3 linked regions of the Homo sapiens genome follow. The protein of the gene in region 2 purifies or fractionates together with the protein of the main gene of each other region. This does not show direct contact. Each region holds a gene or a part of one and is shown on either strand. Other genes may lie near its edges.

Evidence for each region.
Region 1: the proteins of SEPTIN6 (region 2) and CEP72 purify together in Homo sapiens (affinity purification with mass spectrometry, with the first as the bait; one large-scale study listed by BioGRID). This does not show direct contact.
Region 3: the proteins of SEPTIN6 (region 2) and FLNB fractionate together in Homo sapiens (co-fractionation; one large-scale study listed by BioGRID). This does not show direct contact.

What each region holds. Positions count from the first base shown.
Region 1 is NC_000005.10:615,238-618,886, forward strand, and holds part of CEP72 (centrosomal protein of 72 kDa), read left to right. Parts: intron 1-2,591; exon of another isoform or gene 2,592-2,612; intron 2,613-3,649. UniProt on the Homo sapiens protein: Involved in the recruitment of key centrosomal proteins to the centrosome.
Region 2 is NC_000023.11:119,651,638-119,655,286, reverse strand, and holds part of SEPTIN6 (septin-6), read left to right. Parts: intron 1-2,246; coding exon 2,247-2,433; intron 2,434-3,649. UniProt on the Homo sapiens protein: Filament-forming cytoskeletal GTPase. Required for normal organization of the actin cytoskeleton. Involved in cytokinesis. May play a role in HCV RNA replication.
Region 3 is NC_000003.12:58,147,800-58,151,448, forward strand, and holds part of FLNB (filamin-B), read left to right. Parts: intron 1-406; coding exon 407-565; intron 566-849; coding exon 850-1,053; intron 1,054-2,050; coding exon 2,051-2,203; intron 2,204-2,305; coding exon 2,306-2,428; intron 2,429-3,649. UniProt on the Homo sapiens protein: Connects cell membrane constituents to the actin cytoskeleton. May promote orthogonal branching of actin filaments and links actin filaments to membrane glycoproteins. Anchors various transmembrane proteins to the actin cytoskeleton.

The sequences.
Region 1 (3,649 bases), on a different chromosome or scaffold from region 2:
TGATTCCTCTGCTTCAGCTTCCCGAGTAGCTGGGATTACAGGCGCCTGCCATCACGCCTGCCTAATTTTTGTATTTTTAGTAGAGACGGGGTTTCACCATGTTGGCCAGGCTAGTCTCGAACTCCTGACCTCAGGTGATCTCTGCTGGGCTCCCAAAGTGCTGGGATTACAAGTGTGAGCCACGGTGCCTGGGCCTTGTTCCTCTTTTTTCCTGGTAATTTTCTTTGTTGAGACATCTGTCTTATTTGATATTACTGTTGTTACGGTAGCTTCTTTTGATTGGTTTTTGCATGGCGTATCTTTTCCTATCCATTGCTTTGAACTTTTAACCTACCTGTATCTTTATATTTGAAATTAGTTTCCTGGTTCATTATTTTTATTCACTCTGCTAATCTCTGTCTTGTAGTAGTGTTTTAGGCCATTTACATTTAATCTAATTGTTAAATATTAGAACTTAAGTGTGCCATTTTATTGTTTTTTGATTGTTTCCTGTGTTTTTTCTTCTGTTTCCCTTTTCCTGCCTGCTGTGACTTACTCGAATATTTTTAGTATCTCATTTTGATTTATCTGTTATGTTTTGGTGTATATCTCCTTGTATGGTTTTCATAGTGGTGGCTATACAAATTACAATGTATTTATGTAATTCAACACAGTTTACTTGTACAGGTATTTTACTACTTCTAAGTGAAATATAGAAACTTTATCACCATTTAGGTCTCTATCCTCTCCCCTTTACAATTTAGTTGTCTTAAGTATTTCCTCTGCATACCTTGAGAACCGTATTAATATTATGATTTTTTTTAAATACCTAGCCTTTTCAGTAACTCAGGAGGAAACATATTTATCTGCATGTTTATCTGTTCTGTTATTTTTTCTTCATTCCACGATGCTCTAGGTTTCTTTCGTTTTTCCTTTATATTTGAAAAAATTTTTTCAGCAGTTGTCTTAGGGCAGGTCTGCTTGTGACAGATTCTCTTAGTTTTTCTCTACGGTTTTACAGTTTTCATCTGTCATCTCCATTTTGCTATTAAACTGCTCTTGTGATTTTTTGTTATTGTATTTTTCTTTGAAATTTCTATTTGTTTCTTCTTTATATCTCCTGTTTCTTTGCTAAGACTAGTTTTTCCTTTGTCTCAGGTGTTTGTAATTGCTCATTGAAGTATTTTTTATGACAGTCACTTTAAAATCCTTGTTAGACCTAAGTTCTGTGTTCTCTCTTGGTGGTATCTGTTGATTGACTGTGTTTTCTCATTCAAATTGCCATTTTTCTGGTTCTTGGTCATTTTTTATCATATTGTGGACATGCTGGGTATGATGTCATGAGACTCTGCTTCCTGTTTAAATCCCCTTACTTGAGAAGACTCCTCACTCGAGCCTGCTGGGTGCCACCTTGTTGCCGGGACAGTCATGGAGCTCCTGCCTCACCCACGGCCTCTGGCAGACCCTACTGGCTGGGAGAGTGAAGGGCACCACCTCGTTCTAGCCAGGCCGGGACAGCAGTCAGGATCCATTCTCACACCCCGGTGCTGGCTGCTGCGCAAGGCCAGGTGGACGAGGGGTGTGTGTGTGTGTGTGTGTATGTGTGTGTGTGTGTGCGCGCGAGTGGGGGTTTGCTTGCAGGAGGGCTGATGATGTGAAGAGAGTCTGTCCTGCAAGGCCCCTCCTGGTGCCAAGTGGACGAGGGGTGTGTGCGTGTGTGTATGTGTTGTTGTGTGTGTGGGTGGGGGTTTGCTTGCAGGAGGGCTGATGATGTGAACAGTGTGTGTGGTTGCAGGAGGGCTGATGATGTACAGAGAGTCTGTCCTGCCAGGCCCCTCCTGGTCCTTTGGCCATCGAGAGCAGGCTTACGGTTTTTGGTCTTTTTGTGTTTCTGGGCTGCCGACTTCTGTGGCACCCAGAGTGGGATGTGTAGTAAATAAGCATAAACAAAACCCCAGAGTCAAGCCAGGGACTCAGCGCTGGGTTCTCTCTCGAGTGCCGAGGCCCCTGGCTGGTTGGCTTCTGTTCCTTTCAGTCCCCCAATGCTTGTTCCGTATATTTTCCTCCAGGGCAGTGGGTCTAATATGCGGGAGGAGCAGGTTGAAATGTGTCCTCTCCATGTTGCCTGGAACTGGAAGAGCTCAAACCAAATTTTAAACTTAATCAGAACATATTCTGGTTGGGTGTGGTGGCTCATGCCTGTAGTCTTGGGAGGCCGAGGTGGATGGATCACCTGAGGTCAGGAGTTCGAGACCAGCCTGGCCAACATGGTCAGGAAACCACAAGACTGTCACGGAAACCCTTTTCTTTCAGTAACATGAGCCAAAGGTCACTGCACCTTGTCCCCTCCTGACCCTGTCCCGGTGGCAGGGTGTGGGGGACAATGAACTGCTTGTCTGTGTGCCTCCAAGTGGGGCAAAACCAGGCAGCATCCTGCTGTTTAGCTGCACCTGAGACGATGCCTGAGGGCTACCTGAGGAAACAGGGAAACGTGGGGTTTTAGCCGGATGTGGTGGCGTGTCCCTGTAATCCCAGCTACTCAGGAGACTGAGGCGGGAGAATCACTTGAACCTAGGAGGTGGAGGTTGCAGTGAGCCGAGATCGCACCACGGTACTCCAGCATGGGCAACAGAGTAAGACTCCATCTGAAAACAAAAACAAAAAAACCAAAACATATTCTAAAACATAAATGTTCCCAGGAAAGTATTGATGTATTCGGATCTAAACTGCCTTTTTGATTACGGAAACTTTCATCTTGTAATTAATGTTGATGTAGTGACTGCTTATGGGGTGCGTGGAGCTTGCACAGCCCGACCACAGTTGTAACAGGAGGACAGCAGACAGGTTACCCGACGAGTGGGTTTCAGATGGTGATGGCTGCAAGGGGTGACAGAATTGAGCAGCCAGAAGTGGAGGCGGGAGATGAAGTAGAGGGGTGTTCCTGGGGAGAGACGGTTTTGGAGGGAGAGGCAGTAAAGGTGGGAAGAAGCGTGTGGGCTTGGAGGTATTGTAGAGATAAACATAAGCCGAAACTTCAGGTACGTTCCTTGCTCGTCAGTGCTGATATTCCAACTCCAAAGGAGTTGCACTGAGTTCTAGGTGCCTCTTTCAGATTACGAGGATACATATCTCTCTGAGAAAAGCTGAAAATACAGAAATGTGTAAGAGGGAAAATAAAGGGATTTATTCCACAATAGGACACATGTGTTAAAGTTTGTCTTTCAATCTTTTTACATATACTGTTAGAGGAAGAAATGTTTTGAATGACCCTTGTCAGGCACAGTGAGGAAGGCTTTATTCAGAACCATTGAGGTGGGCCTGGGGCCACTGCGCTGGGATTTTGCAGTGGGGGAGAGAGATGGAGCTCAACTCCAAGTACAGCAGGGGCCGGGGGGAGTTTATAGCCTAGGGTCAGGGTGGGGGCAGTGGATGGAAAATGACTGAGAGGACACATGAGGAGTAAGGGGATTTGGGCTAAACCAACTGAACAGGATTATTGCGAAAGAGAGGCCAGGGTGAGCAGACACCACCTATGGGATCTGGGGATGAGGAACCTGAGCAGATACTGAGGGTGGGGGTTTTGGCCGCACTAAACTGGACTTTACAAGGAAGGGCACAGATGGCCGAGGAGAAGATTCAGGAGCCTGAGTAAAGTTGAATTAAACCAAGA
Region 2 (3,649 bases):
GAGATGAATAAGACGAAGATAAGCCACCCATTTAGGATTCGTCTACACCAAATCCTGGTGGCTGATTGGCTGGTTTGGCTGGTCTGATCCATGTACATCTTGAGAGCTTCCGAGAGCCAGAGGCAATTGCAGTAAGACAGGCACAGGGTATCACTACAGATTTCGGGGTGTGTGGGGGAGCTAAAAAATGCACTTTTTAGCTTTATTTTCTTTCCTCTGATTCCTTCTGCAAAGCAAAAAATGAAGTAAAAAAAAATTACGTAATTGAGAAAAAAAATGAAGCAGTGCCATCATCAACTATTTCAAATCAGCAAAACATCCAAAAATTAATTAAATAAGCCTAGGGGATACATTCCCCACCCTCACTCCAAATTCGTCAGGAACCTTCTAAGGATCTTTGCAACCAAGAGATTCTTTGATGCGATTACCCTTCGGAACAGTGGCTCGGAGGGATCAAAGGAATAAAGAAAGGACTATGTTTTTAGAGTTTTCTCTGGGGCTTGGGAGGCAGAGGTTGCAGTGAGTGGAGATCGCACCACTGCACTCCTGCCCGGGCAACAGAGCGAAACTCCATCTTAAAAAAAAAGATTTTTCTCTGGGGCTCCAGAGATAGCCTGCACCTGGATCTCAGCTCTGGCTGCAGCTCTCAGAATCTAGGATCCTGTGATTCTTTCTTAAAAGGCTATTTTCCCCTTCTCTACTAGGGGGATCTTTCAGAAAGGCTCAGCCTGGGAGCTGCTGCAGGTGGGAGGCATTGGCTGGGCTCAGCTCCTCCTTTGATCATCATGTTCCCTTCTGGCAGCGGTATCTGAAAACTCCCTGCCCTGGGCCCACATGACAAGCCTCTTCTAGCCTGAAGGGAGGCACCCCCTCAGCCAGAGAGGCAGCAGACAGACAGGGGAGATGAGAACAAGAGGCAGAGCTGAGCTAAGCTGACCTAGTTAGAGCAGAAAGAGGCCGTAGGGGTGACGGGGATGACGTGGGAGGGGACTGGGACAGAGGGAGAGGGAAGTTTCCCAGGGAGGCCCAGGAAAGAGAGACATAGAGGGCTGACTGTTGTTTAAGAAGCCTTGGCAAGACTTGGGGGCCACCTAGAGGAGCCGCGTGTGGAGACTCAGTGAGCTGGCGGGCCTGTGTCCATGTGTGCAGGGTGTGCGGAGGGGAGTAGCTTTACCAGATTTTGCCTGAATACTTTGTTTGTTTGTTTGTTTGTTTTTGGAGATGGGGTCTCACTCTGTTGCCCAGGCTGGAGTGCAGTGGCATGATCTCCACTCACTGCAACCTCTGCCTTCCGGGTTCAAGCGATTCTCCTGCCTCAGCCTCCTGAGTAGCTGGGATTACAGGCATGAGCTACCACAGCTGGCTAATTTTTGTATTTTTAGTAGAGACGAAGTTTTGCCGTGTTGCCCAGGCTGGTCTCGAATCCTGAGCTCAGAAGATCCGCCCGTCTCAGCCTCCCAAAGTGCTGGGATTACGAGCCATGATCCACTGTGCCTGGCCTGAATACTTAAAGTCACCACCTTGGCAGAAATGAGAATCAGAAAAATATCTTGACCTTGGGGGAGCCAAGTGTGGAGCTCCGCTAAACCTAGCGAGAATGAGCAAAAGCCCTGAATGTTCTCACAAGATTGCCCAGCAGTGGGCCAAAGAGAGGTCTTGTTACCCACTGTGTACCCAGCTCTCATCTAGGCACTGTAGGGCGAGATAAAGGGAGCAAAGACATGAGCCCAGCTTGGAGGAAAATCAGTCCCTCTACAGATACAGCCAGTGGGCTCCATGCTGTGTTGGGGCCCCCCGAGGGACAGACAAGTGCCCTTCACAGGCCCTGCTCTTTAGGAAGGCACAATCTATTTGAGAGAATCCTTGTGAAGCAACAATAAGTAATTGAATGCCATTTCTTGTTATGCCCCTGACTCGCAGAAGGGATTTCTGGCATAAGTGGGGAAGGCCGTAGGAAGGAGGAGGACATTAAGCTGAGCCCTGAGGTCTGGGAGGGCAGAATTGGGATGAGGAGAGAGAAAGGGGCATTCTAGTGAAGGTGCACAGATGGGCATAAGTTTGGCTCATGTAGGGACCAAGAAGGTGGCCAGGCTGACAAGATTGGAGGCCCACTGAAGGGAGATGGAGAAATGCAGTTGGATGGGAGAGAGTCAAGATTACAGAGGGCATTTGAAACTTCCAAAAAGGACGGTGTCAAAATCCAAGTTTTTGACGGGATCCGCCTCTGTCCCTGCTCTCCCTTTTAGCTACAAGCCTATCGTGGAATTCATCGATGCACAATTCGAGGCCTACCTGCAGGAAGAGCTAAAGATCCGAAGAGTGCTACACACCTACCATGACTCCCGAATCCATGTCTGCTTGTATTTCATTGCCCCCACGGGTCATTCCCTGAAGTCTCTGGACCTAGTGACTATGAAGAAGCTGGACAGTAAGGTATAGGAGGCAGGGGCGGGGGCGCTGGGGGCTCACTCTTACTGATCTCTTGTGCAAAGTAGATGTGGGATTCCGGGAGAGATTTGTGGCATCCTCATCCTCTCCCTCATTCCCTGTCCCTCCATAAAGATGGTGTTACGGATCCAGCACCAGCGTCGTAAGCTTTGTGATCTGTTTTCCCAGCACTAGGGATGGGCTTGCCCTGAGCTGTCTTTCTGCCCTGATCCCTCTTGGGGACTAGCAAGATGGCTCCCTGGGTCTAGGGGCAAAGGCTTTGGCAATGGAAAGCTGTTTTTTTCTTTGTCCGAATGTTAACTGGCTAGAATCAAACATGCAAACTTGACTTTGAAAGTTATTCTTGCTATCAATAATTACTTTTATGATTGCAGTTAACATTAAAACCCTCATTATATGCCAGCCCCGTGAAGTACACATTATTGTTATCTTCATTTTACAGAAGAGAAAACTGAGGCTCTCAGAGGTTAAGTGACTTGCTCATTGTCATATTGCTAGCTACTGGTAGAGTGCAGATTCTGTGACACTCAGATCTGTGACCCCATGTTATAATGCTTCCATGCCCGAGAAAGATGGCTGTGGGAATCAGGCGTTGTCTTCCTTTAAGAAAAACTTGGCTGGGTGCGGTGGCTCACACCTGTAATCCCAGCACTTTGGGAGGCCAAGATAGGCGGGTCATCTGAGGTCAGGAGTTCGAGACCAGCCTGGCCAACATGGCGAAATCCCGTCTCTACTAAAAATACAAAAATTAACTGGGCATGGTGGTGCGCATTTATAATCCCAGCTATTGGGGAGGCTCAAGCAGGAGAATCGCTTGAACCTGGAAGCGGAGGTTGCAGTGAGCTGGAATCATTCCACTGCACTCCAGCCTGGGCGACACAGCCAGACTCCGTATCAAAAAAATAATCGAATTCACATGCAGCCATTTAGTAGCACATCCACTCTAAGACTGAATTTCAGCTCTCATCAGAATAGGAGCAGTTTTTCATTTTTTGCAGCAATAGGCTCATGGCCCATGAATAAAAGGCTGCTCTTGAAATGTGGCCATGCCCTGCATGTCCTGTATAGGGGCATTGGTGAGCCACATGGCTGCAGGCCTGGTGGATGGGCCGAGTTAAGCCTTTGAGATAGATAGATACATATATATTTATTTATTTATTTATTTTTGAGACGGACTTTCACTCTTGTTGCCCAGACTGGA
Region 3 (3,649 bases), on a different chromosome or scaffold from region 2:
ACAGCACCCACCACCACACCCAGCTTATTTTTGTATTTTTAATAGAGATGAAGTTTCACCATGTTGGACAGGCTGGTCTTGAACTCCTGACCTCAAGTGATTCGTCTGCCTCAGCCTCTCAAAGTGTTGGGATTAGGCACCTGGCCCAAAGATTCCTTTAAAATGTGGTCCATGAGGACTCAAGTCTCTAGGTCCTGCCAGCTTCTTGTCTTTGCTGCAAGCAGGCATGAATCCCATCATTCTTCATTGGTTGGGTCTACTCAGTGTTCAAGGCTCATTTTTTTTTCACTTAACTTTGTGTAATTAGTTCTTGCGTGTTCATCCGTGAACAGCATATGGCATGGCAGCTCTGTGAAGCCAGGGTAACCACATGTAACGGGAGTCCTTTTTGGGGGATGTTTCCCAGATGACAGCAGGCGGTGCTCCCAGGTGAAGTTGGGCTCAGCCGCTGACTTCCTGCTCGACATCAGTGAGACTGACCTCAGCAGCCTGACGGCCAGCATTAAGGCCCCATCTGGCCGAGACGAGCCCTGTCTCCTGAAGAGGCTGCCCAACAACCACATTGGTGAGCTAGGCTACCCTTCCTGGCTGGAGCCAGGACATCTTGGGTGGGAGATGGGGACTCTTGCAGTCCTTTCTTGGGAATGGGTAGCACAATGGAGTGTGATGTGATAAACCTGCTGGGTCACACGCACGATAAATGCCCAAGCGTATTTGTGCATTGTGATATCGACACTCTGGATTGTTGGGTGTCAGGAAAGAGGACATATTTCTATTTCTGAGAGTGTGTCTCTCTCCTGCTTCCTCTCCGCCATCCCCTTACAAGCCCCAATCTGTGTTCTGGTCCAGGCATCTCCTTCATCCCCCGGGAAGTGGGCGAACATCTGGTCAGCATCAAGAAAAATGGCAACCATGTGGCCAACAGCCCCGTGTCTATCATGGTGGTCCAGTCGGAGATTGGTGACGCCCGCCGAGCCAAAGTCTATGGCCGCGGCCTGTCAGAAGGCCGGACTTTCGAGATGTCTGACTTCATCGTGGACACAAGGGATGCAGGTCTGTGTGGTCCCAGGGGAGAGGCCCAGAGCTTGTGGGAACCGACTTATTTTGCTGAGGCAGCGTCATCTTTTCATCCTACCAACTCCTTTTCCTTTCTGAGCATCCTTCAAGCTATAGGTCCTTCTGCCTGCATTGTCTTTTATGCCTCATGACCATTGGCAAAAATGGGATTGTCTTTGTTTTTTAGATGATGAAACTGAGGCTTGCAAGGTTTAGAGCCCCCTCTGCACTAGGATCTGAACCCAGAGCCACAACACCTCGCAAACCCCTGTTTTCTTATCTGCTCTCCCACCCTTGTTCTCAGCTTCCCAGCGTCTCTCCAAGCAAAGAATGTTGGGTTGATTGGCCAAGACCATGGTCATCTGAGCAGAGCTTTTGTGGAAATGAAGCATCTCTTTCTGTTTTCTCTTTGAGATGGTTTGAGTTAGATTGTGTCTCTTCCAAGCTTGCCACACCCCAGTGCCTCCAGTCATCTGCTTTCTTGAAGGATGGCCACGCTGGTGAATTCTAGACAAATTCTAACCCGGGGAGAGGGCTGGAGAATTTCTGGTCCTGGTTGGGAGATACTCCCTGTTAAACCTTCGGATATGCTGACCTAGCTGAGGTAGCCAGGGGCTATTTAAAAATTCAAAATCTCAGATCTGGCTGTGGATAAACCCCCAAGGTGGTACGTGCAGTACTTGGAGGCGTGAGGGCAGAAGGTCCTCCCCAGCAGTTTGTACGGGACACATCATCTATGGGATATTAGTAAATATCCTTAAGGAAAGGCTTCTGTGGTCAAAACCAGGTTCAGCAGGTTATTTCACTATGGGGCTTCTCAGGACGCTTAACCTACTCATCCCCCTCTGGGCTTTGCAAACGAGGCCGCCATTGCTTTCTTTCTGCTATGTAGAAATAGATTGAGGCGTAAGGGTCGGATGTCCTTTCTCCATTCATCAGGCTCCCTCTTCCTGAGGAGCTGCTGTCAGAACAGCCTGGGGCTGCTGTGTTGCAGGTTATGGTGGCATATCCTTGGCGGTGGAAGGCCCCAGCAAAGTGGACATCCAGACGGAGGACCTGGAAGATGGCACCTGCAAAGTCTCCTACTTCCCTACCGTGCCTGGGGTTTATATCGTCTCCACCAAATTCGCTGACGAGCACGTGCCTGGTATGTGCATTCCATTCCCCTCCAGGTGGGATGCTTGGGTTTTCTGTAAATGCTGTGCCTTGGCCTCTGGCCTGCTCACAGGAGCCTTCTTGGGTCTTGCAGGGAGCCCATTTACCGTGAAGATCAGTGGGGAGGGAAGAGTCAAAGAGAGCATCACCCGCACCAGTCGGGCCCCGTCCGTGGCCACTGTCGGGAGCATTTGTGACCTGAACCTGAAAATCCCAGGTGGGCGTCGGGGACTAGTAGGGTGGGGAAGCCTTGGCTCCAGCCTTCAGGGCAGTGGGTGCCTTTGGGAACCAAGTTTAGGCATGGCCCAGAACACAGTATCCAAGTCGGCTGTGCTGACCTTTTCATTTCACTTCATTTCATTATGTTCTTCTATGTTTATTTTCACAGAGTCTCATCCAAGAAAAACAAATGTTTACCTTGCTACCTTTTTCCTCTTCCAAATAAAAATAGCTTTATTGTGTCACATGGGGGAAACGTAGATATGCTTTTAGATTTTTAGATTAACTATCTGTCAAATAGAATCATGTCAGTGAAAGAACTGGCCCTGCCGATGCCAGGGTCTGGAAGTATTTAAGAGGTGGCAGCCCAGCGGCATCCTTCTAGTATTTCTCTTTCATTCCTGAAATTAGAACGAGGGCTGTGCTGCAGAACTCGCTGGGCCACATCTAGCCCTTTGGTGGTGAATTGTTCTTCTTGGGCCCCGATTAGCCAGTCAACAGGTCACACAGTCTGTCTGAAATGTGTTCCAAGTTCTTTCTATAAAGAATCCTTCCAGAGGGAAGCCACTGTGAGTGAAAATTTTGAGGCTCCTCTGCCCAGAAGTTGGCATGTCCTGTGGAATTGCACAAATTCTACAGAGAAGGGAAATCTAAATCGTCTTCAGATGGAGCTTGTGTTGCGAGCTCTGGAGAGGGGGTTGTCTTTCTACACTGCATCTCCCATCCTTCCTAACGAGTCACGGAGCTGTCGACTCCGCCTTCTTGGCTTTAGTTAACAGGTTCTTCTTGTGTAGTCACATCAACGTCGGGTCACATGGGAATGTGGTAAAGCCTCATTACTGTAGAGTTCAGACATGATCACTTAAAAAGAGCTTTATTGGGCCGGGCGCGGTGGCTTACTCCTATAATCCCAGCACTTTGGGGGGCCGAGGCAGGCAGATCACCTGAGGTCAGGAGTTCGAGACCAGCCTGGCTAACATGGCAAAACCCTATCTCTTCTAAAAATACAAAAATAAGCAGGGCGTGGTGGCGGGCACCTGTAATCCCACCTACTCAGGAGGCTGAGGCACAAGAATTGCGTAAACCTGGGAGGTGGAGGTTGCAGTGAGCTGAAATTGCACCGCTGCACTCCAGCCTGGGCAACAAAGTGAGACTCCTTCTCAAAAAAAAAAAAAAAAAAAAAAAAGAGCTGTACTGATCGTTTGTAGTCATAAACAGT